4 separate regions of the Homo sapiens genome follow, and regions 1, 2 and 3 are each linked to region 4. Evidence: fine-mapped expression QTL. A gene starts in region 4. Each other region holds a variant in brackets. All regions are shown on one strand. Distances are between the middles of the regions.

Evidence for each region. PIP is the estimated chance that this variant, and not a neighbour inherited with it, causes the effect. A credible set is the group of variants that fine-mapping cannot tell apart.
Region 1: its variant is the best candidate, but not a certain one, in a credible set for the expression of ECHS1 in blood mononuclear cells (TOPMed, PIP 0.76).
Region 2: its variant is the best candidate, but not a certain one, in a credible set for the expression of ECHS1 in whole blood (TOPMed, PIP 0.67).
Region 3: its variant is the best candidate, but not a certain one, in a credible set for the expression of ECHS1 in whole blood (INTERVAL, PIP 0.82).

Annotation. Positions count from the first base shown.
Region 1 is chr10:133,282,230-133,290,229 of GRCh38, reverse strand. TUBGCP2 (tubulin gamma complex component 2) reads left to right here. Exons shown (of 18, transcript NM_006659.4): 9 at 261-406; 10 at 1,210-1,390; 11 at 1,921-2,101; 12 at 4,602-4,774; 13 at 5,017-5,145; 14 at 6,228-6,348; 15 at 7,009-7,152; 16 at 7,888-8,000. Among named protein-coding and RNA genes, the nearest start is that of ADAM8, 9.4 kb to the right of the region's middle. The variant C/T (reference allele first, on the strand shown) is at 3,735.
Region 2 is chr10:133,259,045-133,267,044 of GRCh38, reverse strand. ADAM8 (ADAM metallopeptidase domain 8) reads left to right here. Exons shown (of 23, transcript NM_001109.5): 22 at 3,280-3,357; 23 at 3,812-4,622. The coding sequence ends at 3,889. Among named protein-coding and RNA genes, the nearest start is that of ADAM8, 14 kb to the left of the region's middle. RefSeq lists enhancers at 3,745-4,721, 7,660-7,709 and a silencer at 5,038-5,367. The variant T/G (reference allele first, on the strand shown) is at 4,410.
Region 3 is chr10:133,346,850-133,354,849 of GRCh38, reverse strand. It overlaps ZNF511-PRAP1 (ZNF511-PRAP1 readthrough), which reads right to left. Exons shown (of 9, transcript NM_001396060.1): 6 at 4,689-4,755; 7 at 3,417-3,469; 8 at 2,710-2,843; 9 at 2,167-2,603. The coding sequence ends at 2,410. PRAP1 (proline rich acidic protein 1) reads right to left here and starts at 7,477. Exons shown (of 5, transcript NM_145202.5): 1 at 7,425-7,477; 2 at 4,689-4,755; 3 at 3,417-3,469; 4 at 2,710-2,843; 5 at 2,167-2,603. The coding sequence starts at 7,432. The coding sequence ends at 2,410. It also overlaps a transcript of FUOM not described here. RefSeq lists enhancers at 6,132-6,791, 6,792-7,451, 7,452-8,000. The variant C/A (reference allele first, on the strand shown) is at 3,757.
Region 4 is chr10:133,369,375-133,377,374 of GRCh38, reverse strand. ECHS1 (enoyl-CoA hydratase, short chain 1) reads left to right here and starts at 4,021. Exons shown (of 8, transcript NM_004092.4): 1 at 4,021-4,129; 2 at 6,618-6,815; 3 at 7,344-7,471. The coding sequence starts at 4,042. MIR3944 (microRNA 3944) reads left to right here and starts at 5,712; the gene lies at 5,712-5,819. It overlaps LOC124902563 (a long non-coding RNA gene), which reads left to right. Exons shown (of 2, transcript XR_007062395.1): 1 at 1-715; 2 at 2,169-2,639. RefSeq lists an enhancer at 3,278-3,367 and a silencer at 3,749-4,258.

The sequences.
Region 1 (8,000 bases), 87 kb after region 4:
AGCCACTGTGCCCGGCCCCTAGGTTCGTTTTAGCCGAGAAGTGTTGGGGTTACAGGCGTGAGCCACCGTGCCCGGCCCCTAGGTTCGTTTTAGCCCACAGTTGAGAAGTAACTGGTAGATTAGGCTCGGCCCTTGTGGAACGTTACTTGGAAGTGTGCTGGCCTCTGTTAATGTCCCTGCGCGCTGCCGGCCTGGAGAAGTGTCGCCTGCCTCAGGCGCCCTTGCTTTGCCTGTGACCGAAGCGCTCCCTGTGGTTTTAGTGAGTTTATGGTCGAGGAGCACGAGCTGCGGAAGGAGAGGATCCAGGAGGATTACAACGACAAGTACTGGGACCAGCGGTACACCATCGTCCAGCAGCAGATCCCGTCCTTCCTGCAGAAAATGGCGGACAAGATCCTCAGCACAGGTGCGGCGCAGCGGGCGGGGACTTGGGGTGCGCAGCACAGCTCTGCCTGGAGAGTCTCCTGCAGCCCAGGCCCTCCCACCGGGAGCCTGTGCCTCACCCTGTGGTTGCCCTGAGCCCTGGTGTCCGTGAATGCGGGGCTGAGGTCAGGACTGGCCCGTGGGCTGGGCTGCGGCGCTGAGTTAGGCCTTGAGATGGTCTCTGTTGCCAGGTTCCCTCAGGTTTCCATCTCCGGGACTCTGTCCCTGACCCTGCGAGGCTCTCTCACAGGTGCCTTCTCTATTTCTGTTTCTGATTTCTAAAACTCCGCTAGCATGTCAGGAAAAACCAGCAAAGACACACGCCTGGCGGCCGGCAGTGTTTCCTATCTCTGACCACACAGGTTAGGGCCTGACCTGGACCCAGGGCAGTGGCGCGGGGACTTGGACTCGGCACATCGGGGCCGTCACGAAAGGGTTGGGAAGCGATTAGCCATCCGGTTCTCATAATGCCTGTTCGAAATTATTTCTGTGCCCTTGGTTAGAAAATTCCAGATGTGCAGAGCCACGGCAAAGCCCTGCCACCACCAGCTCAGTCTGTAGCCGCTGACAGTGATTTACCGGGAAGGAGCAAGGGTGTGGAGCCGCCTCATGCAGCCCAGTTTCCATTCCACTGCCTTCTGTGTAGACAAAGACAGCTGGGGCCTCAGACTGACCGTGTGGAGAGCCCATTCAATGTCCATTCCACTGCCTCCTGTGTAGACAAAGACAGCTGGGGCCTGAGATCGACCATGTGGAGAATAAAATTTTGAATTTCTGTGTTTTCAGGAAAATATCTAAATGTGGTCAGAGAGTGTGGCCATGACGTCACCTGCCCGGTGGCTAAAGAGATCATCTACACGTTAAAAGAGCGGGCGTATGTGGAGCAGATCGAGAAGGCGTTTAACTACGCCAGCAAGGTGCTGCTGGACTTCCTGATGGAGGAGAAGGAGCTGGTGGCTCACCTCAGGTGATTCCGTGCCCTGTCCCTGTGCGGGCACTCACCTCCCTCTGAAACCGGAACCTGTGGGACGTGGGGCTGAGATCGCTGGGTTTCTTCTGGCAGCTCCGCCTTGTCTTTTTGAAAGTGGGCACTGCTGGATGGTCTCTAGCTCAAGGACCTGGCACTCACAGTGGGTGGTGTAGGCCCCCGGTCACCTTGTCCAGGGGCCCCAGCTCCCCTCCTTGCCCAGGGCCCACCAGCCCCTTCTCAGCTCCTCCTGCCACAGCTTGCGTGGTGGTTGCACAGCCCCTGCCTGAGAGCCAAGCGCTTAGCCTGTTGTAGTGTGTTTTAGGGTGATGGCTATGGCGAGCATCTGTGGGTGGGCACGTGCTCACGCCTGCTCCCTGGCCGTGGCGGGCACCTGCGGGTGGGCACGTGCTCACGCCTGCTCCCTGGCTGTGGCGGGCACCTGCGGGTGGGCACGTGCTCACGCCTGCTCCCTGGCTGTGGCGGGCACCTGCGGGTGGGCACCTGCTCACGCCTGCTCCCTGGCGCAGGTCCATCAAGCGCTACTTCCTCATGGACCAGGGCGACTTCTTCGTGCACTTCATGGACCTCGCGGAGGAGGAGCTCCGGAAGCCGGTGGAGGACATCACGCCCCCTCGCCTGGAAGCGCTCCTGGAGCTGGCGCTGCGCATGAGCACGGCCAACACTGACCCCTTCAAGGACGACCTCAAGGTGGGTGGGGGTGCCGGGGGCTGTCCCCTGTGGCAGAGGCCTCGGAGGGGCTGGGAGGAGAGCACAGCAGAGGCCAGCCCTGTCCCCCACTCCCCGTCCCGGTGAGGCGACCGCAGGGTCTGTTTCCTTCACTTGGCTACCGGGGCCGGCTTGCCGGGATCGGGGGTCTTTGTGCCTGTGCTCTGGAGGGGCGCGGGTCTCGGGTTTTCCTGCAGTGCCCTCGTCCGGGCCTGGCTTTCAGGTCATGCTGGCCTTGTGGAATTGTTTTCACGTGTCCCTCCATCTGTCTTTTGAAAGGGTTTCAGGTCTTTTGAAAGGGTTTCAGGAGTGGTGTTAATTCTTTTTGTTTTTGCCTTTTTGTTGTCGTTGTTTTTTGTTTTTTTTTTTGAGACGGAGTTTTGCTCTTGTCACCCAGGCTGGAGTGCAGTGGCATGATCTCAGCTCACTGCAGCCTCCACCTCCTGGGTTCAAGTGATGCTCTACCTCAGCCTCCCGAGTAGCTGGGATTACAGGTGCGCGCCACCACGCCCAGCTAATTTTTGTATTTTTAGTAGAGATGGGGTTTCACCATGTTTCCCAGGCTGGTCTTGAACTCTTGACCTCAGGTGATCCACCCACCTTGGCCTCCCAAAGTGCTGGGATTACAGGCATGAGCCACCGTGCCCAGCCGTTTTTTAAAATATATATATGTTTTATCTGTTTTTTACTATTTTTAATAGAGACGGGGGTCTGTGTTGCCCAGGCTGGTTGAACCCCTGGGCTCAAGCGATCCTTCACCTGCGCCTCCCCAGGAGGGTGTTGATTCTTTGGCTGTTTGGCAGGGTTTGCCTGGGAGCTCTTGGGCCCTGGGTTTGTCTTTGTTGGAGACTTTTGAGGGGGACTTGGCCCCTTGCTGGCCACAGGTCTGCTCAGTCCCTTTCCTCTTGGTCGGCTGTCTGTCTCGCATCTTGTCTGGTGCACAGTTCATGGGTTTCTAGTATCTGCTTTTTATTTCTGTAAGATTAGTAGTTATATCCCTTCTTTTTCTGATTTTAGTAATTTGAATCTTCTTTCGTCTTAGCTGATGTAGCTAGAAATTTGTCGATTTCATTATCTTTTCAAAGAACCAACTCTTGGGTTTGTTGACTGTATTTTTCTGTTTTCTCTCTTCTGTCATCTTTGTTACTCCTGTCTGCTGCTTAGGGGTTCAGTGTGGTCTTCTTTTTTCTAGTTTCTTAATTTGAAAAGTTAGTTTACAGCTGTAAACATCCCTCCGAGTGCAGCCTTCGCTGATCCCCTAGCGTCATAATTTCTGTTTGTCTGGAGGTGTTTCTGATTCCCTCTGATTTCTTGTTGGAGCCGTGGGTGGTTTATGTTTAACTTCCACATGTTTGTGAAGTTTCTGGTTTTCCTTCTGTTGCTTGTTTCTAACTTTATCTCCTTGTTAGAGAACAGACTTTTTGTGATTTCAGTTTTGTGAAATGTATTGATTTGTGTAGTGGCCCCACATCCATCCTGGAGAGTGTTCCGTGCGCGCGGGAGGAGGATGTGCCCTCGGTTCCGTGCGCGCGGGAGGAGGACGCGCCCTCGGTGCTGTTGGGGTGGTGTTCTGCAGGTGGGTTGAGGCCGTGTCTTTCCTCACTGATCGTCTGTC[C/T]GGCGGTTCTCTCCGTGGTTAGAAGTAGGGCACCGAGTCTCCCTGTCACTGAAGAACTGCTTTTCTCCTTGTCATTCTGTCTATTCTTGATTCAGATATTTTGGGGTCTCTTGTTAGGAGCAGGAATATTTTCGTAGGAAAAATTCCTGGTAGTGAAATTGTTGGGTCACAATACATGGCCCTTGTATGACTAGGCTGACCTTGCTGGAGTTGATGGAGTCCAGTCTCAGGACGCTGCTGTCTGCACACCTGCGAAAGCTCCCACCTTGGCTATTTGATGGACAAGTGATGTCAGGGGCTCATTTCTGCGTTTGTGATGGTCACGATTTCGTCTGTCCGCTGCTTGTTTCTTCTTGCTTTATCCCCTGCCCTTCATTTCCTGTCCTGTCGTTGTGCGATGGTTTTGTAGGAACTCTGTTGCGGGTGGTTGGAACTTAGCAAATACTCGAGTGATTAACGTGAGGACAGTATTACTTGCTTATAATAACTATTATGTCCCTCGTCAAATATGCTTCATTTTTCAACCTGGGCCTGGTGCTTATCATGGTACAAAGGTTTTCGTCCTAAGGAATCACGTTTCTTTCACCGTCCTTAGCGGTTTTTCCCTTATACCACCCACAGCAGCAGTGGGTATTTACAAAGTAATTCATCTGAATTTTTGTTGTTTTGTTCTGATGGGAAGTGGTTCAGTTTTGAATTTGATTTATCAGTAGATGTTTGGGTTTTTGAAAAGCCTCTGATATTTAGAATCGGAATGTAGGGAACCTTACGTCAGCGCTGGGTCTGTGAGCGAGGATGGCGATCGGGATGCGACTTCGGGTCTTTTCCTTAAAACTGGATGCTTTGTTTCATTTCCTTCCCTCCAAGATCGACCTGATGCCCCATGACCTCATCACTCAGCTCTTGCGCGTCCTGGCCATCGAGACCAAGCAGGAGAAGGCGATGGCGCACGCCGACCCCACGGAGCTGGCGCTGAGCGGCCTGGAGGCCTTCTCTTTCGACTACATCGTCAAGTGGCCCCTTTCGCTCATCATCAACAGGTGCGGGTCGGCTGCTCGGGCACCTGCCAGATCTTCACTCAGGTTTGGCAGAAGCGAGAACTGTGCCACGCGGTGGCCACCTCGTCCCACAGAGGACCCAAGGCGGCTCTCCCCGGCCTTCAGTGTCCGAGAGATTCACGGGCTGTCCGGGGGCCACGGTGCGGACTGTGGAGTACAGACGCCGTGTCCACGACGCCGCCGGTCACGGAGGCCCACCTGAGGTGCCGCCACGTCTCTTGCAGGAAAGCCCTCACTCGCTACCAGATGCTCTTCAGGCACATGTTCTACTGCAAGCACGTGGAGCGGCAGCTCTGCAGCGTCTGGATCAGCAACAAAACCGCCAAGCAGCACTCGCTGCACTCCGCCCAGTGGTGCGTTCTTCCTCTGCCCCCGCATGCCCTCCTGAAGCAGCGCTCGCTGCACTCTGCCCAGTGGTGCAGCGCCCCCCTTGTGCCCTCCTGGTAGACAGCTTTCTAGGCTTCTGGAAGTGTCATCTGGAAGCGCACGTTGGTGGCTTTAGATCCATAATGCTTCATTGCTTCATTTTCCTGTCTTGGGGCTGCACGGCGCTGCCGTCCACCCCACAGGGGATGCTGGCTCTGTCCCTCAGCCCTCTCTGGAGCCTTGTGGTGACTGCACGGGCATGGAGACTGCCCAGGTCGGTGTGCAGGACACTAGCTCCTCCCGAGAGCGGACAGCCACATCTTGCTGGGACCAGAGGTGCTTTGCAGCCGGTCTGTGCCTCTAGGGTGTTGAAAAAAGGGGTCGATGGCAGAGCTTCATAAGAATTTGTCCAGTCGGGTGCAGTGGCTCATGCCTGTAATCTCAGCACTTTGGGAAGCTGAGGAGGGAGGATTGTTTGAGCCCACAAGTTCGAGACCCGCCTGGACAATGTAACAAGAGCTCATCTCTTAAAAAAAAAGAAAATTATTTTAATTAGCCGGGAATGCCTGTAGTTCCAGCAACTCAGGAGGCTGAGGTGGGAGGGTTGCTTGAGTCCAGGAGGTCAAGGCTGCAGTGAGCCAAGATCGTGCCACTGCACTGCAGTCTGAGCGACAGCAAGACCCTGTCTCTCGAAGAAAAAAAGAAATTAGAAGAAAAAGAACTCATCTTGATGATGAAGCACAAATATGCATCTGTTGTGTGGCACTTTCCTGGCGTGGGCTCCGAGGGGTCCGTCCACCAAGGAGCCCGCGTCCCAGTCTCCACCGTCCAGCTGGCTGGGGGTGTCCCTGCAGGGCACAGGTTGGTAGACGGTGACAGCTTGTGCTGGGCAGACGCAGGAGCAGCGGCCGTGAGTGTCTGGTGTGCTGGGAGGGGCGCTTGCTCTGCAGAGGAAATAGCCACGTCCAGAGAACGTCCTCCATGGCTGTCCTCCGTCCTCCGTGTCACTTGGTGGGCGCTGTCGGGGCCGCGTCCTCCATGGCTGTCCTCCGTCCTCCGTGTCACTCAGGTTTGCTGGGGCTTTCACTCTGCGGCAGCGAATGCTCAACTTCGTCCAGAATATTCAATACTACATGATGTTTGAAGTGATGGAACCGACCTGGCACATCCTGGAGAAAAACCTGAAATCCGTGAGTTTTAGCTCCACAGATAATAACGTTTGAAAGCCACTTTCCTTTCACAGGGAGACAGGAAGTGCAGGAGAGGCAGGGCGAGGGGAGAGGCAGGGAGTGCAGGAGAGGCAGGGAATGCAGGGAGACGCAGGGAGTGCAGGAGAGGCAGGGAGTGCGGGAGAGGCAGGGCGTGCGGGAGAGGCAGGGAATGCGGGAGAGGCAGGGAGTGCAGGGAGACACGGAGTGCAGGAGAGGCAGGGCAAGGGGAGAGGAAGGGATCCCCCAGGGCGGGGCTGCACCCACACTGCTGGCCACACACGGGACCCCTTGCTGCCTGCCGTCCTAGGGGGACTCTGAGCCGTCTTTGCCCCGAGGTTGTCTCTCCCACATTGCGCATCTGAGGCTGAGGGGCCTGAAGGCAGAATCTGTTGGTACCAAATTCCAGAAGCTGCCGCAGCCTCCCTTCCTGTCTTCTGCCTTAAGAAATGAAACCCCTTCGGGGTGTGCCCATCATTTTTTTAGTGGTGTTTGGAAGTTTTCCCCTAAAAGCCCAAGGCCCATTTAAGAGGTAGAAGTGCGTAAACAGGAATGCACAAAGCCAGAACTGAGCACGTGCGCATGCAGGGCCCGTCTGTCAGCCACGTCTTTCTGAGAAGGGGCTTGGCCTGTTCCCCGCAGGCCTCCAACATTGACGACGTCCTTGGCCACCACACAGGCTTCCTGGACACCTGCCTGAAGGACTGCATGCTCACCAACCCCGAGCTGCTGAAGGTCTTCTCCAAGCTCATGTCTGTGTGCGTCATGTTCACCAACTGCATGCAGGTGCGTGGGTGTGGGTAGCACCATCGGGTGGGCAGGCGCGGGTGGGCAGACCATGTCCCGACCGTGGCCGCACGCAGCCTGCTCACGTTTTCCTGCCCTTGTGTTCGTGGAGGAGCCGCTGGGATCTGAGTGTTTCCAGAACTCCTGGTCTTCCTGGCCGGGTGATTCCCTCCTGGAGCCCCTGCCCTGGCAGCGTGGGCAGGGCTGTGTTCCTCCCGAACCATCCCTCAGCCTCTGTGGTGCTGGTCTCTGTCCGGGGCCTTTGCTTATGGCCCTTGCATGCTCTTTTCCTCAGCACTTGAGCTATTTGATTCCGTTAAGGACCTGCAGGCACTAGTCACAAGCAGCTGCCGACTGGCGATGGTGCAGAACCTGCGTGTCTAGTGGCAGAAGCAGGGGTCTGAGAATGAGGCTCTCCAGGCAGTGCCATGGGGAGGGTCCGGAGGAGGGCGAGTGGGGAGGTGGAGGAGGGCATGGCCACTTCAGGGTCCCAAATAGGGAAACACCAAAATAACTGTTCTCAGGAAAATCAGCTGGTCACCGTGGAAGGTAGACCTGGGAATTCTGTCGGCACAGATAAGTCATTTCCCCTGCAGCCTCAGAGATGCTTGTGTACCCCCAGCCGCAGGCTACAACAGAGGTGCGGAGGGTGACGTGCCTGCAGGACTTGTTTTTTCTGCAAAGCATTGTGGTTGTAACTAACAGAAGCATTTCCTTGCGACTCTCCCCCCCTAGAAATTTACACAGAGCATGAAATTAGATGGCGAGCTGGGCGGGCAGACGCTGGAGCACAGCACCGTCCTGGGGCTGCCCGCAGGGGCCGAGGAGCGGGCCCGGAAGGAGCTCGC
Region 2 (8,000 bases), 110 kb after region 4:
GACTCCCTGGGGCCCTGCAGGACAGATGGGTGGGTGGGCTCAGGGCAGGGACACGTTCCGCGCTTCCCTTGGGTTTGGGGGCTTTGGGGGTTTTGGAAAGATCTCTCAAAACCCGAATCACTGGAGCCCTGGCATGCTGAGGGTTAACTCCCAGGCCTCCGTGTCCCCCCAGGGTTGGGGTCCTGTCCCTGCGCCCTGGCTCCCACCTCTGGGCTAACCTTGGAGCCCTTTTTGGACCCCGTGGGGGCAGCTCATTGGCCTCAGCCCTGGGAAACCGCTCTGGCAGTGGGTGGAGAAGGACCCTTGAGCTCCCTTCCTGGGGCCACTGACTCAGCTAGGGCAGCAGAAAGGGCCAGGCTTTCTCTCTGGGGCCTGGCACGGGGCCCCAGTGGTACCATCGAGGTCCACTTGGCATTGCGGGACATTGTGAGCAGCCTCTGTCCTCAGAGAGGGCAGGACGGTGGCGGGCAGGCTGGGGCTGGGGAGGTGCCTGTGTGAAGAGGTCCCACGGTGCATCTCCGGGGACCCCCTCCACAGAGGTTCGTGGTCAGCCCTAGGACTGGGCTGTGCATGGAAGACCTGGGGCAGGAGAGCCCCTGCCCTCTGGGTTGAGGCTTTTTTTTTGTTAACATTTAATTTTGAACAAATTTTAGACTTACAGAAAAGTTGCAAAAATAGCCTAGAGAATCCTGCATGCCCTTCGCCTGGCCTGCTCCCGAATGGCCACAGTGTGGGCGCGCAGCCGAGGCTCCACGTCACCAATGCGACCCAGTCAGTACCGCCTGCTCCCTCTGGACGCCCTTCTCCAGCCATGGTCCCCCCAGGCACTCAGCCCCCGGCCCCTCTGCCTTTCCTCAGCTTGCCCTTTGGAAGTGTGGCCAGCAGTGTTTTCAGAGTCCCTCAGCCTGGGTTTGTCCCGTCTTTCCTTGTGTGGATGAGGGCCCTGCACTGTTGGCGGGGGCAGCACTGGACACACCCTTCCCCAGGCACAGCCCAGGCCTGGCCCACATGCAGCTTCGGTCACGGGGGATGTTGACACAGCGCCTAGTTGGAGCAGCGTCCACAGATTTTTCCTTAGAAAGCTCCTGTCTTCTTTTTATAGTGAGCAGATGCCTCAGGGAGATACCTTGAGACTCTTTGAACCTTAAGCTTGGACCCACTAGTTTTGGCATCCATTGGTGAATATTGGCTGCAATAGTTGTTCTGTGCTGTTTGCCTAATAGTGATTTTCTCTCTTTTTTTTTTTTGAGATGGAGTCTCGTTCTGTCGCCCAGGCTGGAGTGCAGTGGCGCGATCTCAGCTCACTGCAATCTCCGCCTCTCAGGTTCATGCCATTCTCCTGCCTCAGCCTCCCAATGTATCTGAGACTACAGGTGCCCGCGACCATGCCTGGCTAAATTTTTGTATTTTTTTTTTCAGTAGAGACGGGGTTTCACTGTGTTAGCCAAGATGGTCTTGATCTCTTGACCTCGTAATCTGCCTGCCTTGGCCTCCCAAAGTGCTGGGATTACAGACGTGAGCCACCATGCCCGGCCCTAATAGTGATTTTCTATTTCTCTCTTTCCTTTTTAACTTTTTATTTGAACTAACTTCAGACTTGTACGTGAGTTGCAGAAATAGTCCTAGAAGGGGTCTGGACAGGCAAAATGGGGGCCTGAAGGGGGCAGAGAGATTTCTGGCCAAGGAAGTTATGGTTACCAGGCATAGCAGTATATGGGGCAGAGGCTGCAGCAGGAGCCGGGCGTGGTGGTAGATGGGGCAGAGGCTGCAGCAGGAGCCGGGCGTGGCGGTAGATGGGGCAGAGGCTGCAGCAGGAGCTGGGCGTGGAGGTAGATGGGGCAGAGGCTGCAGCAGGAGCTGGGCGTGGAGGTAGATGGGGCAGAGGCTGCAGCAGGAGCTGGGCATGGAGGTAGATGGGGCAGAGGCTGCAGCAGGAACAGGCGTGGAGGTAGATGGGGCAGAGGCTGCAGCAGGAGCTGGGCGTGGAGGTAGATGGGGCAGAGGCTGCAGCAGGAGCCGGGCGTGGAGGTAGATGGGGCAGAGGCTGCAGCAGGAACAGGCGTGGAGGTAGATGGGGCAGAGGCTGCAGCAGGAGCTGCGCGTGGAGGTAGATGGGGCAGAGGCTGCAGCAGGAGCTGGGCATGGAGGTAGATGGGGCAGAGGCTGCAGCAGGAACAGGCGTGGAGGTAGATGGGGCAGAGGCTGCAGCAGGAGCCGGGCGTGGAGGTAGGTGGGGCAGAGGCTGCAGCAGGAACCAGGCATGGAGGTAGATGCGGCAGAGGCTGCAGCAAGAGCCGGGCGTGGAGGTAGATGGGGCAGAGGCTGCAGCAGGAACAGGCGTGGCAGTAGATGGGGCTGAGGCTGCAGCAGGAACAGGCGTGGCAGTAGATGGGGCAGAGGCTGCAGCAGAACTGTGCAGGAGGGAAGTCACTCACTCTTCACTCTCACGGGCTTCCCCTGGCTGCTCAGTAGGGTCCTTTGGAAGCTGCTGAAAACTGCAAATGCTTAGCCCACCCAGGCTCCGTGTGACACAGCCAGGAGTGAGCTCCACAGCTCTGTGTGGTGGACATCCAGCCTCCCTACCCTGGGAAAGCTGAAATGCAAAGAAACACGTGTTTTAGTAGCTAATTATTGGCCTTTGAGCTTCCAAAACCCCACATTCCGGCAATCTGTAGAGCTCTTCAGGCCAGGCGCATTGGCTCATGCCTGTAATCCCAGCACTTTGGGAGGCTGGGGCGGGAGGATCACTTGAGCCCAGGAGTTCAAGACCAGCCTGGGCAACATAGGGAGACCCCGTCTCTACAAAAAATAAAAAATTAGCTGGGTATGGTGGCTTGTGCCTGTCGTCCCAGCTACTCAGGAGGCTGAGGCGGGAGGATCGCTTGAACCCAGGAAGAGGAAGCTGCAGTGAGCCAACATCACGCCACTGCACTCCAGTCTGGGTGACAGAGGGAGACCCTGACTCAAAAAAAAAAAAAAAAAAAAAGGAAAGGAAAAAAGCTCTTGGAGGGTAATATGGGGGTTGGTTAGGGGATGTGGATGGTGTACTGGGCAGGTGGGCCCAGGATGGCGTTCTGCCACTGATGGGCTTTATTCCTGGGCAGTGGCAGCCAGGAGGGCTTTTCTGTAGCGAGCTCAGTGGGGGCGGAGCCTGCAGGCTCCCTGGGGGGCAGAGCGAGGTCTGTGGGGAGCTTCGTTCCAGGTCCAGAGAAGGTGATGTCCAGGCTAGAGCCGGGAGTGCCTGGGGGACCCATGTCAGCTGTGTCTGTTTCCTCCCAGGTCATCAAGCCAACGTTCGCACCCCCAGTGCCCCCAGTCAAACCCGGGGCTGGTGCGGCCAACCCTGGTCCAGCTGAGGTGAGGCCCCAGCACACACCAGGCAGAGTCCACTGTGCAATGGACGGCACGGCCTCCCCACGGGGCTGACGGTGGCACTGCCCTGGAGGGTGGGGTTTTTTTCTGATTATCTGTGGATAAACTTGGGTGACTGAAAGAAAAGGGAAAGGCATTGGCAGTGGCTGTACTGTGGTATCTGTGCTGTGATCAGGGGACTTCTCAGCAGATGCCGACCCCGGCTGTCAGTGGTGCCTGACCTTCCCCCAGCAACTGCAGGGAAGAAAGTCTGTCCTCTGTGAGCTGTATATATTGTGACTGCCACACCTGCCATTGTGTGCATGGGCCATGTTGTTGGTGGATGAACCAAGAATCCACATTTTAAGAGATGTTAAAGGACGTAAAATTTCGTTGTACCCTTTATATACCTTTTATAGCAGGTAGTTTTTCAACATCAATTATCTTTTCCTCCTCCCAGGGTGCTGTTGGCCCAAAGGTTGCCCTGAAGCCCCCCATCCAGAGGAAGCAAGGAGCCGGAGCTCCCACAGCACCCTAGGGGGGCACCTGCGCCTGTGTGGAAATTTGGAGAAGTTGCGGCAGAGAAGCCATGCGTTCCAGCATTCCACGGTCCAGCTAGTGCCGCTCAGCCCTAGACCCTGACTTTGCAGGCTCAGCTGCTGTTCTAACCTCAGGAATGCATCTACCTGAGAGGCTCCTGCTGTCCACGCCCTCAGCCAATTCCTTCTCCCCGCCTTGGCCACGTGTAGCCCCAGCTGTCTGCAGGCACCAGGCTGGGATGAGCTGTGTGCTTGCGGGTGCGTGTGTGTGTACGTGTCTCCAGGTGGCCGCTGGTCTCCCGCTGTGTTCAGGAGGCCACATATACAGCCCCTCCCAGCCACACCTGCCCCTGCTCTGGGGCCTGCTGAGCCGGCTGCCCTGGGCACCCGGTTCCAGGCAGCACAGACGTGGGGCATCCCCAGAAAGACTCCATCCCAGGACCAGGTTCCCCTGCGTGCTCTTCGAGAGGGTGTCAGTGAGCAGACTGCACCCCAAGCTCCCGACTCCAGGTCCCCTGA[T/G]CTTGGGGCCTGTTTCCCATGGGATTCAAGAGGGACAGCCCCAGCTTTGTGTGTGTTTAAGCTTAGGAATCGCCTTTATGGAAAGGGCTATGTGGGAGAGTCAGCTATCTTGTCTGGTTTTCTTGAGACCTCAGATGTGTGTTCAGCAGGGCTGAAAGCTTTTATTCTTTAATAATGAGAAATGTATATTTTACTAATAAATTATTGACCGAGTTCTGTAGATTCTTGTTAGATCAGCGGGGAAGGATGGAGGGCTTCAGTTCACGAGATACAAGGGTCGGCGCTTGGTAAAATGCAGACTGCGAATAGATGAGGTCAAGCCACCTTCTTTTCTCCCTGGATTTCTCAGGCCCTCCCCAGCGTAACTAAGCAGTCCCGCCCCTCCCGCGGGCAGACGATCCGATCCAGGAACCCACGCCCAAGAAGACTTCGCCGCGATGCACGGAGGAGCCCGCGCTACCCCTGCCCCGCCCCGTCTCCGGGCAATGGCCCGGCCCCGCCCCCGCCCCGTCTCCCGGCAACGGCCCCGCCCGCGCCCCGCCCATTCCGTCTCGTCTCCCGGCAACGGCCCCGCCCGCGCCCCGCCCATTCCGTCTCGTCTCCCGGCAACGGCCCCCGCCCGCGCCCCGCCCATTCCGTCTCGTCTCCTGGCAACGGCCCCGCCTCTTCCGGCCCCATGCCCTTGTCCGGGCCACTGCCCCGCACCCCCCCCGCCATGCTGGGCTCGACCCCGGCCCCGCGCGGCCTCCACGCCTGGCTGGACGCGCTCCCGCTCAGCCACCCACGCGCCGCCTGGCCCGGGACCTCAGCTATGGCGGTGGGCGCGCGTCCGCGAAGTCGTGGAGTCCGAGGGGCCCCCGCGGCAGGGGCCTGCGCCCTCGGCCCAGGAGAAGCGGCGAATGGCCCGCGGCGCCCCTCCCGGTTGCTCGCTGACCCCCCCGCCCAAGAGTCTGGGGCTGCGAACCCCGCTTCGCCTTTGCTGCATCCGACTCAGCCTTTCAGATCTGTAGGATCCGGGACTCCAGTGTCCGACTACAGGGCGGGGCTCACGGCCCACACGCGCCGCAGTACCCCGCCCGATGCGCACGTTCCCTCTGGGCACCCCCTGGGAGCGTCCCCGTGGTGCCAGGCTGGCGCGCTGGCCTCTGAGGAGGTGGCTTCTGCTCTAGGCACCTGAGCAGCAAGTCTGAGTGGGCGCCCACGGGGCGGAGGCTGTTAGACGCATCTGGTGCTGCACCGAGGAGGCCTGACGTCCCCTGTGGCCAAGCCCCCACACCCATGGGTGCTGCCTCCGGGTGGCTCCTCCGAGGCAGAGCCCTGAGCTGATAGCGCCCATTCGTCTCGCAGGCCTGCCACGCCCCCAGCTCCCTTCAGCACGAAGAATGAGAGCGTTCTGGAGGGGACAGGCCACTGCACTTGCAGAGGGTGGGTTCCTGTCTCTCAAGCCCATACCTCCCTTCCTCCCGATCTCCCCAGCCTCCGCCGCCCACCCCATTTCCTCGACAGTTGGATTCAAGGCTGGTGTCTACCTTGTAGTGGGGACCCAGCCGCCGGGCGCCAGAGCACCCAGACCCCGGAGTCCAGCAGCTACTGGAGGACAAGGAGCAGGCGCTGTCCTTTCCGCAGGAGACAGTCAGGGTGCAGGCGACCTGGCACCCTTGTTGCCGGGACACCCTGTGGCTGAAGGACTGGGAAACAGGGCCTGTGCGGAGCCTTGCAGAGAGGGCATGGCCTTCATTTTCTCCAGCCCTCCCCAAAATGCAGACATTTGCTGAGTACCTGTGGGCACCAGCTCTTATCACCTGGCGGTGCTGGCTGGCAAGTCTGCCTGGCTGCCCTCCAGCCAGAGCCGAGCCCCTTCTCCCATCCCCAAATGCACAGAAGACAGCCAGAGAGCCAGGGTCCTGGGCAGCACCTGCCCAGCCCAAGACTCCACATGAGCACTTAGATATGCAGTGCACACCTGGCTCTCTGCACACACCTGGTTCTCAACAGACACCTGGCTCTCCATGCACACCTGCTCTCAGTGCACACGCGGCTCTGCAGTGTACACCTGACTCTCTGCACACCTGACTCAGTGCACACCCGGCTCTGCAGCGCACACCTGACTCTCTCTGCACACCTGGTTCTCAGTGCACACCCGGCTCTGCAGCGCACACCTGACTCTCTCTGCACACCTGGTTCTCAGTGCACACCCGGCTCTGCAGCGCACACCTGACTCTGCACACTTGGTTCTCAGTGCACACCTGGCTCTCTCTGCAGACCTGATTCTCCGTGCACACCTGGTTCTCAGTGCACACCTGGCTCTCTCTGCAGACCTGATTCTCCGTGCACACCTGGCTCTCTCTGCACACCTGGTTCTCAGCGCACACCTGCTCTCAGTGCACACGCGGCTCTGCAGTGTACACCTGGCTCTCCGTGCACACCTGGTTCTCAGCGCATACCCAGCTCTGTGGTGTAAACCAGGCTTGACAGGCTCTGTGGACCCATGCCTGGCTCTGCAGGTGCACACCTGGCTCTTTCACCAGGGGTCTCCAGTTTTCCTGCGTGCAGGAAGCCCCTTGCCATACCTGCCTCCCCCAGCTCCAGCCATCAGGACCCTTAAGGGATGCTGGATGGGAGCCCGGACTCCACACAGACGTTCACTCCAGGCCTGCTGGGCAGTGCACGGCCACATCCGGAAGAATCCCTCTCACCCCAGGCACCTGCCTCGGGCACAGTGGCCACAGGAGAGGCCTGCTGACCGCCTCCTAAACCTTCCTATACTGGAAGCACAGACTCAGCCAGTCTCCAGCAGCAAACAACGTGACCCACTGTGGAAAAGCTGAGCTGCCTCAAAGGACGTTTCCCAGGTGAAGCCCAGGAATGACGGCCACATATGGGCAGAGCTGGGTGGCAAGGGGCAGGCCTGTGCTCAGTAGACTCAGCCGGACCAGGGCCCCCATGTGGACCCAACGCCACTCGCCGGTCATCCCAACAGTGTCTCTCGCTCAGAGACAAACTCCAAAGGCCAGGGGGTCTCTGCTGACTCTTCCAGGGCATCCATCTGACCCCATGCTGTGCAACAACTAAGCCAGGGCCCTCCGTGGAGTCGCCTTAAACTGCAGCTTGAGCTGCTTTCCCTCTGGGTGTCATGATGCAGCTGTGATTCTTGCTGCCACACGTGGATCATGGAGGCCGTGACTGGGAAGCCAGCAGCTTCACTTCCTGCCACCACTCCCTCTCTGCCAGGCTGCGGTCAATCTGAAGCCACAAAATGACGTCACTTTCCTGCTTTCTCCAGAAAACAGCTCATCCAGATCTGGGCACCCGCTCAGGAACCGCGATGTCGACATCATCTCCAAGAGCCCCTTCAACCCCGAGGCCCCTTGGGCACAGCCTGCACACCTGCCCCACACACTCTGTCCTGTGTCCCGGGCCCCTGTCTTGAGGTTCTGCCCTCCCCGGTGCCCCTGGGCCGAGGGCTTAGTCCCCTGCGGGGTCTCAGGAAGGAACTTCAGGGCCACAAACCTCAGGAGGGTTCCAAAGCCGCCTCAGGAGGCAAGGCGAAGGCAGCTGAAAGCAGCCGCTTCCTCCCTGAGCCAGAAGGCA
Region 3 (8,000 bases), 23 kb after region 4:
CGCTTCGGGAGGAACTGTCGGCTGGAGAGGCCTCGGTGTGGGCCATGCCCTATGCCTGTGGCATAGGTGGCCTCCCGCTGAAAGCCTCACTTGCCCTGGCAGGCAGGGGAGGTAAAGGACACGAGGTCATTTGGAGTCCAGTGCCAGGCAGAGGTGGGATGCAGGGGGTTCCTGAAAGGGGGTGCCTGGGAGGCTTGCCCATGGGATGCTTGGACTGGTCCCCAAGGATGGGGAAGAATAACCACCAGCCACTGTCCGGACCCTCGTCTTGCTCCCCAGAACTTGCTGCAGTGACAGGTACAGGAAGAAGATGGGGCAGGGCTGGAGTTTGAGGGACCAAGGGCAGGAGTGGGGATGACAGGGGCTTCCCCCAGGGCCTGGGGCTGGTGTCCCCGGGGCTCGAGGGGGCAAGTCCCAGGGTTCCAGACCCCCACTCCAGACCGCAGGAGAACCTTGGGGGTGCAGGCAAGCCCACCCCGGCTGAGATGTGGCTCCAAATCTGGGGAAGGGACCCTGTCTGGGCTTGGCTGCAGACTTTGGGGTCCTGTCCGCCTGCTGCTCCCAGATGGTAGCCAAGGCTTTCTCTGTGCTCACTAGTGGTCAGCCTTGGCCCCAGGGGCCTCGCACTTGCCTGGCCAATCACTGCTCATCTCTAGACCCGATGGCCGCGTCGTGGCCTAACATCAGCGGTGTACGAGCTGGTTGCACACACCCTCGCCCATCCCCAGGCTCAGCCCCACAGATGAGCCTCTGGGGTTAGTGTGCCCTCTCTAGCATGTTATATAAATGAAGCCATATATGAGCAAACTAAGTAAAATCACGAGAAAAAACAAAGTAATGGGCAAAACAAAATAAAATCAAGATAGCTTTAAAAAAAAAAAAAAAGCCACAAACACCAGCTTGGGCTGCCTAGGGCAAGACCCTCCTGCAACTCAGAGATCCAGGGTCTTCTACCTGCCTGGGGCTCAGGGAGTGGGGAAGGAGTTGCCCAAATCTCAGCCCTGAGCGTGTTGATCCCTCAATGCCCTCCTACCCCATGTTCTTATCAGGATGACAGGGGAGGCTGCCAAGGGAGAAGCTGGCAGCCCATCTCTGGCCCTTTTAGGACAGAACCTCAAAGGTCACTGGCCTCTCCAGCTCATCCATAAGCCAGGGTAACAGCTCTTACATTGTGGGACACCGTGGGGCACCCTTGGGCAGTTACTCTCAGCCGTTGGTGTCCTGGGAGAGCGGGGATTTGCTGGCGGTGCAAGGAGCTCTTCCACACCTGGGCAAACCCTCAGCCCCCTGAGTGGCCACACGAGGGCTGAACACGGCAGGATGAGGGACGGGTGGCCTCTCTCCCTTGCTCCGTTCTGTCTTAGCTGCTGGAGCTGGCAAATGTGTGTGGCTCAGCCCCGGGCTTGGCACCAGGTGCTTCTCTCTCACCATAGGGATGAGACTGCCACGCAGGAACCCCGCCCACATTTGCATGTGCCCAGGACACATGCGGTGTGTGAGTGACTCCAGCAGCCTGGACCTGCGCTGCAGCATTGGGCCTGCTGGGCCAGGAGGACAGGATGGGCACCCAGAGTGGGAGCTGCACAGAACGTCAGGAGGGCAGAAAGGCCATGTCCTGGGCCTGGGTCTACCCGCCCTCACCTGAGACCTGTGCACTTTCCACCTGAGCACATGCACGTCCGTTCAGCTGGGCCCTGAGCCCCAGGCACTCGGCCACCCTCCTCCCCGACCCTGTCTCAGGCTCCTGCTGTAGGGAGCCCAGGGTGGGTTCTGTTTCTCAGCTGAGACTGGTCCCAGGGTGCCCTCTGGTCCCATCCCCTAACTGCTGCCACACCCCTCACCATCCCGGTATACAAGGAGGAGGGCCTGGGGGTAGTGCAACCTTCTGGGAGCCAAGGGTCACCTGGGCCTTGTGCAGCCCTTGATTCTCCTAGGCAGGGCAGGCTGGGCCCCGGTCATCGGTCTTCTGGGGCATGTGGCCTCCCACCTGTTTGCAGGGGTTGATTGATTGATTGATTGATCGATTGAGATGGAGTCTTGCTCTGTCGCCCAGCCTGGAGTGCAATGGCACGATCTCAGCTCAATGCAACCTCCGCCTCCCAGATTCAAGCGATTCTCCTGCCTCAGCCTCTCAAGTAGCTGGGATTACAGGCACCCGGCACCATACCCGGCTAATTTTTGTATTTTTAGTAGAGACGGGGTTTCACCATGTTGCCCAGGCTGGTCTGGAACTCCTGATTTCAGGTGATCCGCCTGCCTCGGCCTCTAAAAGTGCTGGGATTACAGAGGTGAGCCACCGCGCCCGGCCTGCTGGGGTTTATTTGTCTAGCTGGGGCAGGGTAGGGAGGGTCCCAGTCCCAACAGCCTGGGCCTTGGGACAGGGCGGGGGCAGTGATGGCCCCTGGAGCCCTACTGGGGGTGGTAGATGTGGTCTTGGTCTTCCTCCGGTCCCAGGAGCACCTGGTGATTTGGCATCACCCACAACCGGGGCCTCTCCTCGCCCTGGTCCTCCTCAGGCGGAGGGTGGTACAGGCTGTCATGGTCGGGCTCGGGACTCAGGACATGGCCCAGGGTGTCCTCGGTCTCCATCCAGGCCTTGGTGCCTAGGGACAAGCACATGAAGGTATAGTCTCAGTTTCTTTCCCGAGACCCTTGGTCTGTCCAAGTCAACCCCACGAGCGGACTCTGCTGCTGTGACCTTGTGCCCACCTGGAAGGATGGGGCCCCTGCCCTGACCTCGTGGCTTCTCCTCGGTGGTCAAGAGTTTCGGCTTCTGGACAGGGAACAGCACCACCAGCTGGTCGTCCTTCTCCGGAGGCTCCACCACACGGGCGCCCCAGGCCCTGCTGGCACAGTTTGGTCAGGTCCACATGCAGGTGGGGGAGGTGGACAGAACCCCCCGCAGGAGGGTGCCCACCATCCCAGGGCAGCCACTCCAGCCCCACCACCAGCAGCCCCAGGACAAGCCTCTCTCTCAAGAGCCAGTGATGAGTGGCCCCCAGTGCTCCCGGCCAGGCTTCCACACCACGTCCCTGGGTGGCTGCGTGGGGAGCAGTGGTCAGAGCCTTGGTTGAGCAGTGTCCCAAGGGCAAGGATGTGGGGAACCTCAGGATCCAAGACTGAGCCGCCCCAGCTACAGCCACCAGCCGTGGAGCACAAGCTGCCCTGGAGGCTGTGGGGAAGCTGAGTAGGGAGACACCGTGGAGCCCCAAGCCCTCCGGCTGTGCTCTCTTCTCCCTGCATGGGGCGCTGTTGACAGATGCCCATGAGGCTGGAGTGCCCCCTCCTTCCAAAAGCTGCTGGACAGGGCTCCTCTCTGCATCTGCCCCGTGCTCTCCAGGTTCAGGAAGGGCCCAGCAGAACGGGCTGTAGCTTCAGGGAATGGGTGGTGGGGAGGTGGGGTTGGGGGGACTTACTTCTCTGGGTCCTGCTCTGAGGGCCAGTGTTTGACTTGCATCTTGATAGGGACCTGGGGGAGAGTCACAGGTGTGGGCTGGGCCACAGTCCACGCGGGTGGAGGACACCTGGGGAGAGGTTGCTCCGAGGCCCACCTGGGGCTGCATGGGGTGGAGGTGGCTGCAGGGGGTGGGGGCAGGGCCAGCTCAGCACAGCTCGAGCGTCTCTAGTGGGCAAGCCACTCTCGGGTGTTGGGATTGCAAGCCGGGATTGAGGTTGCCGGCCTGTGCCCAGATGACCAGCTGGCCTGGAATTCTGGCCGGGTCTGGGGCAGCACAGGACTGGGATGTAACCTGGCAC[C/A]GTATCCCTGACCTAGCACTCCCAACCCTGGCCGTCAATGCACTGGCTGTTTTCTGCAGTGACTGGTTGGGTCTGTGTCTGCACCACCCCTTCCTGGCTGGTGCCGAGAGAACGCGGTCAGCCGCTCTGAGCCCAGCTAACCTTAGTTGTCAGCTGCTCTGAGCCCAGCCAACCTTAGTTGTCAGCTGCTCTGAGCCCAGCCATCCTCAGTGGGGCAAAGGACAGACAGGAGAGCAAAGCAGGTGACCCCAGGGGAGGACCAGTGGCTCCAGGGGAGGACCAGCACCGTGGGGGGGCTGTGCCCATGCTCCTGCGTCTCCAGTCAAGGAAGGCGTGGGCCTCCTTCCTCCCGATCCATCCCAGGTGTGCAAGACTGTGTGGCCTTGACATGGGCCAGGGAACAGGGCCCGTCCCCAGGCATAGTCCCGGCTGAGGACACCACTGTCAGCACAGACAGTGCAGCTGAGCCACTAGCACATGGAGTCACCTCTGGCCTTCAAGGCCCAGGTGAGTATCAAGGGGTGTCATCCGGGCCCTCCTCCACCTGGGTCACATGGGTTCATCTGGGATCACCTGTTCCACTTGGGACCACGTGGGTGTCATCCGGGCCCACCTCCTCCACCTGGGGTCACGGGGGCTCATCTGGACCCACCTCGTCCACCTGGGGTCATGTGGGCTCATCTGGACCCACATCATCCACCTAGGACCACCTGGGTGTCTTGAGGCCTGTCCATCTGACCCCAGGGAAGGGAAGCCTGCCCCCTCCTCATGCCTGCACAGGCATCAAGAGTCATGAGCGTACCCATGCCTCTCTCCCCTAAGCCAGCTTGGGGTTTGAAGCCAGAAGAGGGGCCCTTTGTCCACATCCCCTGCTGTAGGGGCAGAAGGTGACAACTGGAGTTGCTGCCCAGATGGGAGGGGCTCACACCTACCTTGGGTGCTGGGACTGCACCTGCCTCCCACAGCAGCACAACCACCAGGCTGGTGACCAGGAGGAGCCTGAGGGGGGGCCAGAGAGGGAAGTGTGAGGTAGGGGAAGGGGACGCCCTGAACTCCAGGCAGCACCCTGATGGGCAGCTGGGAGGCCTGGGCTGGGTTCCTCCTTGGGAGCGCAGGTAGTTTTACTGGACTGTGCTCACATGGGCCAAGACACGCAGGCACAGAACAGGGAGAAGCCCCAGGCCCACCTGCCTCCAGCCCCCCTCAGGCCAGAGCCCACAGCCCCAGCCCCAGACTCTGCTCCTCACAGTCTGGGCAGACCCCACTGTGGCAGGCACTGGTGGTTGGCTTGGAAACTCCAGAGGTTCTGCCATGCCTCTGTGCCGCCCTCCACGTGGGGACACACATGAACACACTTGCACATGGGTGTGGGTATGGGTGGGTATGGAGCAGCGAGGGCCCACAGCCCCACGCCCACAGAGCCCTGAGGCTGCACGCTGCTGCAGGCAGGGCACCTGCTGTGTCCCAGAGCTGCGGGGCCACGGCTGGGGGGCTCAGGGGTGAATGGCAGCACTATTAGGCAGGCAGGCAGGGTGTCAGGTCAGTTCGGACACGGGATGTGTGTGTTTGTGTATGTGGTGGGGGGTGTGCATATGTTGTCTGTGCATGTGTGTTTTGTGGGTGTGGACCATGTGCATGGTGGGTGTGCATGTATGCTGTGGGTGGTGTCGTGTTCGGGTGTGTGTGCACTGTGTGCTTCAGTGTGTGGTGCATGTGTATGTTGTGTGTGGTGCGGAGTGTGTGAGTTCGGGGGTGCGTGTGCTGTGTGTGTATGTTATGTGTGTTTGTGTGTGGTGGATGTGTGTGTATGTTGTGTGTGGTGTGGAGTGTGTGGGCTTGGGTGTGTGTGTGTGCTGTGTGTGCATGTATGTGTTGGATGTGTATGTATGTTGTGTGTGGGGTGGAGCGTAAGGGTTTGGGGGTGGGTGTGTGCTGTGTGCATGCGTGTGTGGTGTGTAGAGTGTGAGGGTTTGGGAGTGTGTCTGTGTGTGCGTGCGTGTGTGATGTGGTGCAGACTTGTCTCTTCAGGGCCCTGCGGGGGAGGCTTGCGTCTGTCAGGGTGGGGTGGTCTTGGGGTGGGGCGGGGCTCTGGGTCTGTACAGGGCTCAGCAGGGCTGCAGTCAAGGGTGTCTGGGGCAGGCGCAGTGGTTCACACCCATAATCCCAGCACTTTGGGAGGCTGAGGTGGGCAGATCACCTGAGGTCAGGAGTTTGAGACCAGCCTGGCCAACATGGCAAAACTCCGTCTCTACTAAAAATATGAAACTGCCTGGGCACGGTGACTCACGCCTGTAATCCCAGCACTTTGGGAGGCTGAGGCAACAGATCACTTGAGGTTAGGCATTCGAAACCAGCCTGGCCAATATGGTGAAAACTTGTCTCTACTAAAAATACAAAAAAAAAAAAAAAAAAATTAGCCAGGCGTGGTGGCAGGTGCCTGTAATCCCAGCTACTTGGGAGGCTGAGGCAGGAGAATCACTTGAACCTGGGAGGTGGAGGTTTCAATGAGCCAAGATGGCGCCACTGCAGTCCCTCCAGCCTGGGCGACAGAGCGAGACACTCTGTCTCAAAAAAAAAAAAACAAAACTTAGCTGGGGGTGGTGGCACACACCTGTAATCGCAGCTACTCCTGCTGAGGCAGAAGAATCAGTGTCTGGGACACCCTGCAGGCCTGGATTGCAGCTCCACAGGGACCTTTGCCCGTTCTCTGGGTGACTCAGCCATGGTGAGAGGTCAAAGGGCAGGGGGGATGCCCCGGACAGCCCGGGGCCGGGACCTGGTCTGGTCTGGTTCGGGGGCCCTGCTTCTCCTCAGGACCCCCAGCTGGTTCTGATGCTGGGCAGGGGCTCTTGTCTGGGCACTGGACCCCAATCCCACTGCCGTGCTGCCTGGGCCACCCCTGGTGCCCACCTCCCATGACACACAGCCTGGGGGCCTGGGATTCGGGTCACGGTAGCCCCTAGAAAGGTGGTCGGTGGTGACTGCCAAGCAGCCTGGCTGTGGGATCCCCGTGGGTCCCCTCTCCAGGCAAACGGCTCTGGGCACCAAAGGGTCCCCAAGCTACCCAGAAGCCACCTCTCTACAAGGGAGAAACACCAGGAGAGGAGGGGCAGGGAGGGCCCTGGCTTAGAGGAGGGGGAAGAGGAGGAGGGCACCTCCACAGGAGCGGGGAGAGGGGTCCCCCACACAAGGAGGGGGAAGACAGACACCCCCACAGAAGGAAGGCAGCCTCTGATTCCAGGGTCCAGCGGGAGCCCGGGTGCTTCCCTGAGCTCCAGATCACAGCTCCCAGGGTGACACCACCTCAGGGCAGCCCCTGGCTCCTGCGCCCCAGCCCCTCCCCTCCCCCAGCCCCCTTCCTTTTGGGCAGTCACAGGCCTGCTGGTTTCAGCCTGGCACCTCCCCTTTCCTTGTTCCGGGTGGGGGTCCCTGGGTGATTCTCCACCAGGCCAGGGGAACCAAGAGGCAAGTGCACTCGGGGCCACAGAGGAGGTAGAGCCTGGTGGCAGACCCCAGACCCTCAGAGGGCCCCTCCTTCTCCCTCCCACCCGCACACTCCCCTGAACCAGGCCCCCTGGAGCGCAGCACAGCTGGGCCCCCTCTGGCTAAGGGCCAGGCCTCCAGGTTTGGGTGGGGTGGGGATTGGGGCTCAGGGATGGTGGCATTACCTCCTCATGTCTGGGGTCCGCGTCTCTGTAGAGAGTGCTCAGGGAGCTGCAGTGGCTGATCCCAGTATCTGGCACCCGGCCCAGCTCCTCCTGCCCAGGCCCAGGCCAATTGGGGCTTTGTTGCTGCCGCTTGGGGCGTGTCAGGACAGAGGTCGGGGCCAGGGATCCCACCCTGGGTAGCTCAGGTGACTGGCTCTGCAGCCGCCCAGCCCACTCGGGCCTGGATCTGAGCGGGGACACCCAGCTGCCTGCTCAGGGCCTGCCACACGACTGAGGAAGAAATTTGCCTTTAAAAACATGCTTGTTGACCGGGCGCGGTGGCTCACACCTGTAATCCCAGCACTTTGGGAGGCTGAGGCAGGTGGATTGCCTGAAGTCAGGGGATTGAGACCAGCCTGGCCAACATAGTGAAACTCCGTCTCTACTAAAAATAAAAAAAATTAAGTGGGCGTGGTGGTGGGCTCCTGTCATTCCAGCTACTCAGGAGGCTGAGGCAGGAGAATTGCTTGAACCTGGGAGGCGGAGGTTGCAGTGAGCCGAGATTGCGCCACTGCAGTCCAGCCTGGGCAACAAAGA
Region 4 (8,000 bases):
ATTCTCCTGGGCCGTTACGGTCGGCCAGTGCCCAGCCTTTGCTGGAAGGCTGTCCAGGCTGGGCTCTGGTCAGGCATCGATGTCCCCCAGGCACCTGGCCTCACCTCGCGTTGGGACAGCCTCTGCAAGATGGAACAGGAAGGGTCTGGCTTTGCCTCTGTCACCTTCTCCCGGTCCATCATGTCCTCCTGGCCAGCCCGTTCCTGGTTCCTGCGGGGAGCCCAGCCCGAAGGGGAACCGAAAGATTCTAACTTAACTCTAGTTCAGCCTCCCGGATCCTCCTGTGGAGCGGCAGGATCCCATAAAAGATACTTGGCTCAGCAACTTGCTGGCCAAGCCTCCCCACAGCGGTCCACACAGGCCAGAGGTAAACATGCCCATGCCCCACACCTGGAAGGCCTGGTGCAAGGAGGGGTGATTGTAGTGACTGAAATGGGAACTCTGGCTTTATGGCGCGGAGAGAGAAGACATGGACCCAAGAGCTGCAGGGTGGGGACAACCGACGCGCTCTTTGTCCCCTGGATGTGGTGCCACAGCCTGAATCCAATAGCACGGGCCGCTGACGCGCTGACCTGGGGCTGGGTTAGTCGCTCGTCCCCCTTGCTCTGAAATGGAGAGTGCACGTGACCACGGCCAGTCCTGGACAATCCTGCCATGCCAGAGCCACCAGCTGGAACACACGGACACAACCTCTTTTCCATCTGACTGGTACAAGGTATGTGCTTCTCCTAGCTCCAGAGGGCCTTGGGTGATGCCACCTATGGTGATCAAGGTGGCAACTACCCATGTGGCTTTGACTGAATCAGGCTTGTTCATTTTTTAAAATAGCTTTATTGATATAGACATCATGCTGTAAGACTTCTCCCGTTTAAAGTGTTCAATTCAATGGTGTTCAGTTTAGTTACAGAGTTGTGCCACTGTCACCATCATCCAGTTTAGAACTTTTTTGTTTTGTTTTGTTTTTTTGAGATGGAGTCTTGCTCTGTTGCCCAGGCTGGAGTGCAGTGACACTACCTTGGCTCACTGCAACCTCTGCCTTCCAAGTTCAAGCAATTCTCCTGCCTCAGCCTCCTGAGTAGCTGGGATTATAGGCATGTGCCACTACGCCCGGCTAATTTTTGTATTTTTAGTAGAGACGGAGTTTCACCATGTTGGACCAGGCTGGTCTCGAACACCTGACCTCAGGTGATCCACCTGCCTTGGCCTCCCAAAGTGCTGGGATTACAGGCGTGAACCACTGCGCCTGGCCCCAAGTTTAGGACATTTTCATCACCCTAAAAAGCAAATGGGGATGCCCCTCAGCAGTCCCCCCCATTACCCCTCCCTCCAGCCCCTGGTGACCGCTAATCTAGTTTCTGTCTCTGTGGATTTGCCTGTTCTGTACATTTCATAGAAATGGAACCTATTCAATGCACGGCCTTTGTGTCTGGCTTTTTTTACTGAGCATAACATTTCCAAGGCTTGTCCATTTTGTAATGTGTATCAGCGCTTCTTTCTTTTTTACTCCTGAATAGAGTCCATTGTATAGTCTAATACATTCTAATGTATCCATTGTTTGGATATATGACATTTTGTTTATCCATTCATGAGTTGATGGACAATTGGCTTTTTCCCTCTTTTTGGCTATTATGAATAATGTTGCTATGAACGTTCATGTCTAAGTTTTTGTGGACATTTGTCTTCATTTCTCTGAGGTGTACACCTAAGAGTGGAGTTGCTGTTTGACCTTTTGAGGAAACAACAGACTGTTTTCCAAAGTGACTGCACCATTTTCCATTCCCGCTGGCAGTGTACCAGCGTTCCCCGCTCACGTCCCCCACAACCCGCTGTGACTGTTGGGCTTTTTATTGCAGCCAGCACAGTAGGTGTGACGTCGTATCACTGAGGGGTCAGTTTGCATTTCCCTAATGATTCGTGATGCTGAGCTTATCTGACACTGATTATCTTCATTGGAGGAATGTCTGTTCAGTCCTCTCACTATCTTGGTAGTGTCCTTTCAGACATAAAAGTTTTAAATTTTGGTGAAATCCAATTTACATATGTTCTCCCTTTGTTGCTTGTGCTTTTGTGGCTACATTACTTGATGGAGGACGGGAGCTGCCCGGCCTCCTGGGTCGTTAGAAAGGAAACCTCTTGGCGGACACGGTGGTCCACTCCTGTAATTCCAGCACTTTGCGAGGCCGAGACCGGTGGATCACTTGAGGTCAGGAGTTCGAGAACAGCCTGGCCAACATGGCAAAACTCCCGACTCTACTAAAAAACTACAAATATTAGCCGGGCATGGTGGTAAGCACCCGTAGTTCCAGCTACTCAGGAGGCTGAGGCAGGAGAATCGCTTGAACCCGGGAGGCGCAAGCTATGATGAGCCGGGATGACACCACTGCACTCCAGCCTGGGTGACAGCGAGACAAGAAAGAAAGGAAAGAAGAGAAGGTGAAGGAGAAGGAAGGAAGGAAATAAACCTCTTTTCTGTCTGAGCCATTTCATTTTGGGCCTGTCTGTCCCAGAGGTTTAACTACACTAGTATAGAGCATCGTTTACTAAAGGTTTGTTGAGGTTTGTTGTTGATTTGTTTCTACTTACACGAGATGTCTTCATTTTTACCCTCGGTCTTGAAATAAAATTTTGGTGCATGTTCATTTTTGGTTTGAATTGAATTATTTTCTTGAACATAGTGAGGCAGGAGAACAGGGTCTGGAGGCCAATTCATGCTGACTCCCTAGAACTAAATCAAATGGAAACACTTCCGCTATGACAAGAAGTGTCCTCTCCATTTACACAGGGCGTACACCAAGTAACCAATGGAAACCTCTAGAGGGTATTTAACCCCCCCAAAAAATCTGTAACGGGGCTCTTGAGCCGCTATGCTCAGCCGCTCCCACAGTGTGGAGTTATTTTCGTTGTCTTTTCTTGTTTCTTTTTTGAGACGAAGTCTGGCTCTATCGCCCAGGCTGGAGGGCAGTGGTGCGATCTCGGCTCACTGCAACCTCCGCCTCCCGGATTCAAGCAATTCTCCTGCGTCAGCCTCCCGAGTAGCTAAGACCACAGGCGTGCACCACCACGCCCGGCTAATTTTTGTGTTTTTAGTAGAGAGGGGGGTTTCACCATGTTGCCCAGGCTGGTCTCAAACTCCTGACGTCAGGTGATCTGCCCGCCTTGGCCTCCCAAAGTGCTGGGATTACAGGCCTGAGCCACCGCGCCCGGCCACACTTTTGTTTTCCATAAATCTCGCTTTTGTTGCTTCCTTCTTTCCGTGCTTTGTTTGTGCGTTTTGTCCAGTTCTTTGTTCAAGACGTCAAGAACCTGGACACCCTCCACCGGTCACAATAGCAGTTTCGCTTTCCATTCCATTTTATCCAGGGTGGTTTTATCTCCACCCTGGCGTTTGCAGAATCCGGGCAAGTACACAAATGGATGCTCCACAATACTTGTCTAGATATTTAAAAGGTATAAATAAAATAACTTAAATGAATGAAATTTTTATTATTTAAATCTGTTGAAGTCTTGTGTGCATGAAAATAAAACTCCTCCTAATGTGGCGTTCAGTGCCCACGCCGCTGCCACCGTGCCTGGCCCTGCGCCTGGGCGCGCTGTGTCCGCTGCTACAGACGCCGGCGGGCAGGCGGGCAGGCGGGCAGGCGGGCAGGCGGGCAGGCGGGCAGGCGGGCAGGCGGGCGGGGGGAGGCGGCGCAGAGCCCGGCAGGCGCCGCCGTTGCCTCCGCCTCCGCGCGGTCTCCCCGGGGCCAGCTGGGACCCCGAGGGCTGGGGCGGGGGCGGGGGCGCGGGCGACTGCGGCGGGGCCTGGAGGGCGCTGGTCCCAGCCCAGGGCGGGGTCCCGGGGACGCCCCTCGGCCTTAGATCCGCGAGCGGCAGCTCGGGCCTGGGGGCGGGGCCTGGCGGAGAGCGACCCGCTCACTCTGCCCGGGCTGATCTCGCGAGGGCCGCCTGGTCTCGCGGCGCTGGCCTGTGGGCGGAGCGAGCCCTGAAAGGCTATAGGCGAGGGGGCGGCTCCGCGGGGCCGGGCGAGGAGTCCAGAGAGCCATGGCCGCCCTGCGTGTCCTGCTGTCCTGCGTCCGCGGCCCGCTGAGGCCCCCGGTTCGCTGTCCCGCCTGGCGTCCCTTCGCCTCGGGTGAGTGCGCGGTGAGAGCTGGCGGCCCGAATCTCCTCCTGACTCCGACCTGCACGCCCAGACCAGATCCCAGACCGCACCCCCCTCCCACCTGACCCCGCATCCCCCACCTGACCCCAACCCACACCCCTCTTCCGCCTGACCCCGCACCCTCACCTGACCCCTACCCGCACCCCACTCCGCCTGACCCCGCACCCCCCCGCCTGACCCCGCACCCCCCCACCTGACCCCGCACCCTCCGGCCTGACCCCTACCCGCACCCCACTCCGCCTGACCCCGCACCCCCCCACCTGACCCCGCACCCCCCGGCCTGACCCCGCACCCCTCTTCCGTCCGATCCCGCATCCCCAGGGCCTGACTCCGCACTCTCCTGCCTGACCCCGCACCTACCACCTGACCCCGACCCGCAGCCCCTGCCTGGCTCAGGCCTGCAACACCCCCCTCGCCTAGTGCTGCACCCCCCACCTGACCCGCACCCACAGCCTGACCCAGGCTTAACACCCCCCCACCACCCGCCACCCCGCACCGACACCACCCACCTGACCCTGGCCCGCACCCCCACCCCCTGCCTGGCTCTGCAGGAGGCCACTCTCACCAGGCCACGTCCTGCGGGAGGCCCGGCGGCTGGCTGGTACTGCCCCAGTGCCAAGACCTCTGGCCAACTGGGCGCAGGGTGGGGGTTGTAAAAATCCGGGGTGTTCCCTCGGCTCTAAGAGCAGGCGTAGCTCCTGTGCAGCCGGCCAGCCCGAGAACAGGAGATGCAGGTGCATTTTGTCCTGGGTGCCTCCTGACCAGGGCCACCCCTCAGAGGGTCCTAAGGGAAAAGCTGACACCTCCTCCCCAGCCACAGGGGGCTGCCCTCTTCCTCCCTCGTGGCTCACCCGGGGCCCCACTCATGAGCGGCCATCACCGGCTCTAGTATCTGAGGAATCTTGGGCCATGCCTTGGGCTGGGGAAGAACTCTTGCTTCCTCTTCCTCCCTCACCCTGTGTAGCAGTGGACCACTGAGTTGTGTTGGTTTCATCTCCATGCTCTCCTTGGCCTTCGGCTTCTCCACCCTGACAGCAGCCCTTTCCTGGATCTTGCATGGCGGGCACTGCTGCCAGACACTTCACCTGTGATCTTCCAGTTACCCCTAGAAACCCACAGGATACGGCGGGGCACAGTGGCTAATGCCTATAATCCCAGCACTTTGGGAGGCTGAGGCAGGTGGATCACCTGAGGTCATCAAGACCACCTTGGCCAACATGGTGAAACCCCATGTCTACTAAAAATACAAAAATTAGCCAGGTGTGGTGGTGTGTGACCGTAGTCCCAGCTACTCGGGAGGCTGAGGCAGGAGAATCACCTGAACCCTGTAGGCAGAGGTCGCAGTGAGCCAAGATTGCGCCACTGCACTCCAGCCTGGGCAATAGAGTGAGACTCGGTCTCCAAAAAAAAGAAACCCATAGCACAGGGACTATGATCCCTGCTCTGCCACTAACGGAGGCAAGCATCCAACACACAGGCTACCTTTGTCTTTTCAGGTTCACCTTCTCACCCCTGGAACGCCATTGTCCTTTGTCTCCTTCCCACCTTGCTGTCCACCCAGCAGGCGCAGGTCCTGTGCAGCAGGCCAACCGAGAAGCGCCTGCGTCTCCCATTTTCGGGCTGGCCTGCTGCTCCGGACCTGTGCCTGATCTTAATGCTGCAGGAACACCCAGGATTTTCACATCCCCCACCCTGCGTCCAGTTGGCCAGAGGTCTTGGCACTGGGGCGGTACCAAGTGCAAGGAGCTGCCTTACACCCCCTCACCTGTTGGCATTTGTTGAAAGAAGGTGTTTCCTGGTGCCTTGTCTCAGCAGAGTCCAGGGCTGTCTCCAGAGTGGTGTCCTGGGAAGAGCTGACCAAGGCATATTAGGAGAAGGAAAGCGGCTGTGGGCTGTGTTCTGTGCTGGGGATTTTTCTTTTTTTCTTTTCTTTTTTTTTGAGACGGAGTCTCACTCTGTCACCCAGGCTGGAGTGCAGTGGCATGATCTCAGCTCACTGCAAGCTCCACCTCCTGGGTTCATGCCACTCTCCTGCCTCAGCCTCCCCAGTAGCTGGGACTACAGGCGCCCGCCACAACACCCGACTAATTTTTTGTATTTTAGGTAGAGACGGCGTTTCACCGTGTTAGCCAGGATGGTCTCGATCTCCTGACCTTGTGATTCGACCGCTTCGGCCTCCCAAATTGCTGGGATTACAGGCGTGAGCCACCGCGCCCGGCCCGGGGATTTTCTTTAGGACATGTTCAAACACATGTGAAAGCAGAGAGAATGGTACCAAGGCTACCATCTATCCTTGTGGCTGAGAGCTACACCTGGAGCCACTGAGGACTCGGCAGGGAGCCCTCAGAGGGCCTCTTGGGGTCACACTGTATCCACCGATGGGGCCACATCCCTTCCCCCACTCTCCCCAGTTTGATACCTGTGTGAATAGATACCCCTTTTTGCCTTCTTGCTCCAGGTGCTAACTTTGAGTACATCATCGCAGAAAAAAGAGGGAAGAATAACACCGTGGGGTTGATCCAACTGAACCGCCCCAAGGCCCTCAATGCACTTTGCGATGGCCTGATTGACGAGCTCAACCAGGCCCTGAAGACCTTCGAGGAGGACCCGGCCGTGGGGGCCATTGTCCTCACCGGCGGGGATAAGGCCTTTGCAGGTACGCGCGGCAGCAGAGGCCTTTGTGTCTGGGCAGATGTGGGAGGCACGTATGGCCTTGGGAGAAGCCTCCAGACAGATTTGCGCCTCTGTGATGGCAGAGGCATGCGACTGGGGACTTCCTCAAATATCGAGTGAAGACGGTCATGGGAACGGCTTGCATGAGCAGCTTTGTGTATGCCAGAGAGCTGCATGTGCTCCACCAGCAAAACAGCTTCTTCAAAGGGGTTTAGGTCCTTGGCAGTCAGGCTTTGTGTGTGTCAAGGGCTTATGCCCTGACAAATATGCCTAGCCTCTGTGGGCGCCTCCCTTGCACCTGCTGCCTGCCTCAGGGCCCCTCTGCGTGACTTCTGTTCTAGCTGGCATTACAGCGTCCCTACAGCTGTCCACGTGGCCTGGTGTCAGCCGTGCCCAGCAACCCCACTGCCTGTGTCTGGTGTGCTCTGAAGTTCCTTGTTGGTCTGAGAGATATAGGATGGGTGGGCTCTCTGCTCTCTGGTAACTGGAACCTCCTTTCCACTCCTGCTAGCTGGAGCTGATATCAAGGAAATGCAGAACCTGAGTTTCCAGGACTGTTACTCCAGCAAGTTCTTGAAGCACTGGGACCACCTCACCCAGGTCAAGAAGCCAGTCATCGCTGCTGTCAATGGCTATGCCGTGAGTGTTGCTGCCAAGAGTCTCCTCCTCTCGTGGTTGAAGGAACCGTGCTGTGCATACACAGCATAACAGATTTTTATTTTGAAGAGGCCTTTAGTTCCCAGGCCAGCAGCCTCCTTTCCTGCCTCATGGTGCTAAAGAGCCAGGAACTGTGTGGAGAGGACACCTCCTGGCATCTGCTTTTTTCGTGGCTGTTCACCTGACAGCTTCTCCCCAGCAAGCCTCTCTTCCAGGGTGGGGGAAGAGAGGTGTTGGCTTTGGCTACATCTATAAACTAGCTTCTTTTGCTCCCCTTGAAAGCTCTGTGTCCTGGGACTATTTGAAGTGCTGAGACTGATCTTGGCCTATAGGGAAGGCAATGTGATCATTTCATGACGCTCCCTGCCGTGTAAGCCAGGGGTCTGCGGATTGTGATCATTTCATGACGCTCCCTGCCGTGTAAGCCAGGGGTCTGCGGATTGTGATCATTTCATGACGCTCCCTGCCGTGTAAACCAGGGGTCTGCGGATTGTGATCATTTCATGACACT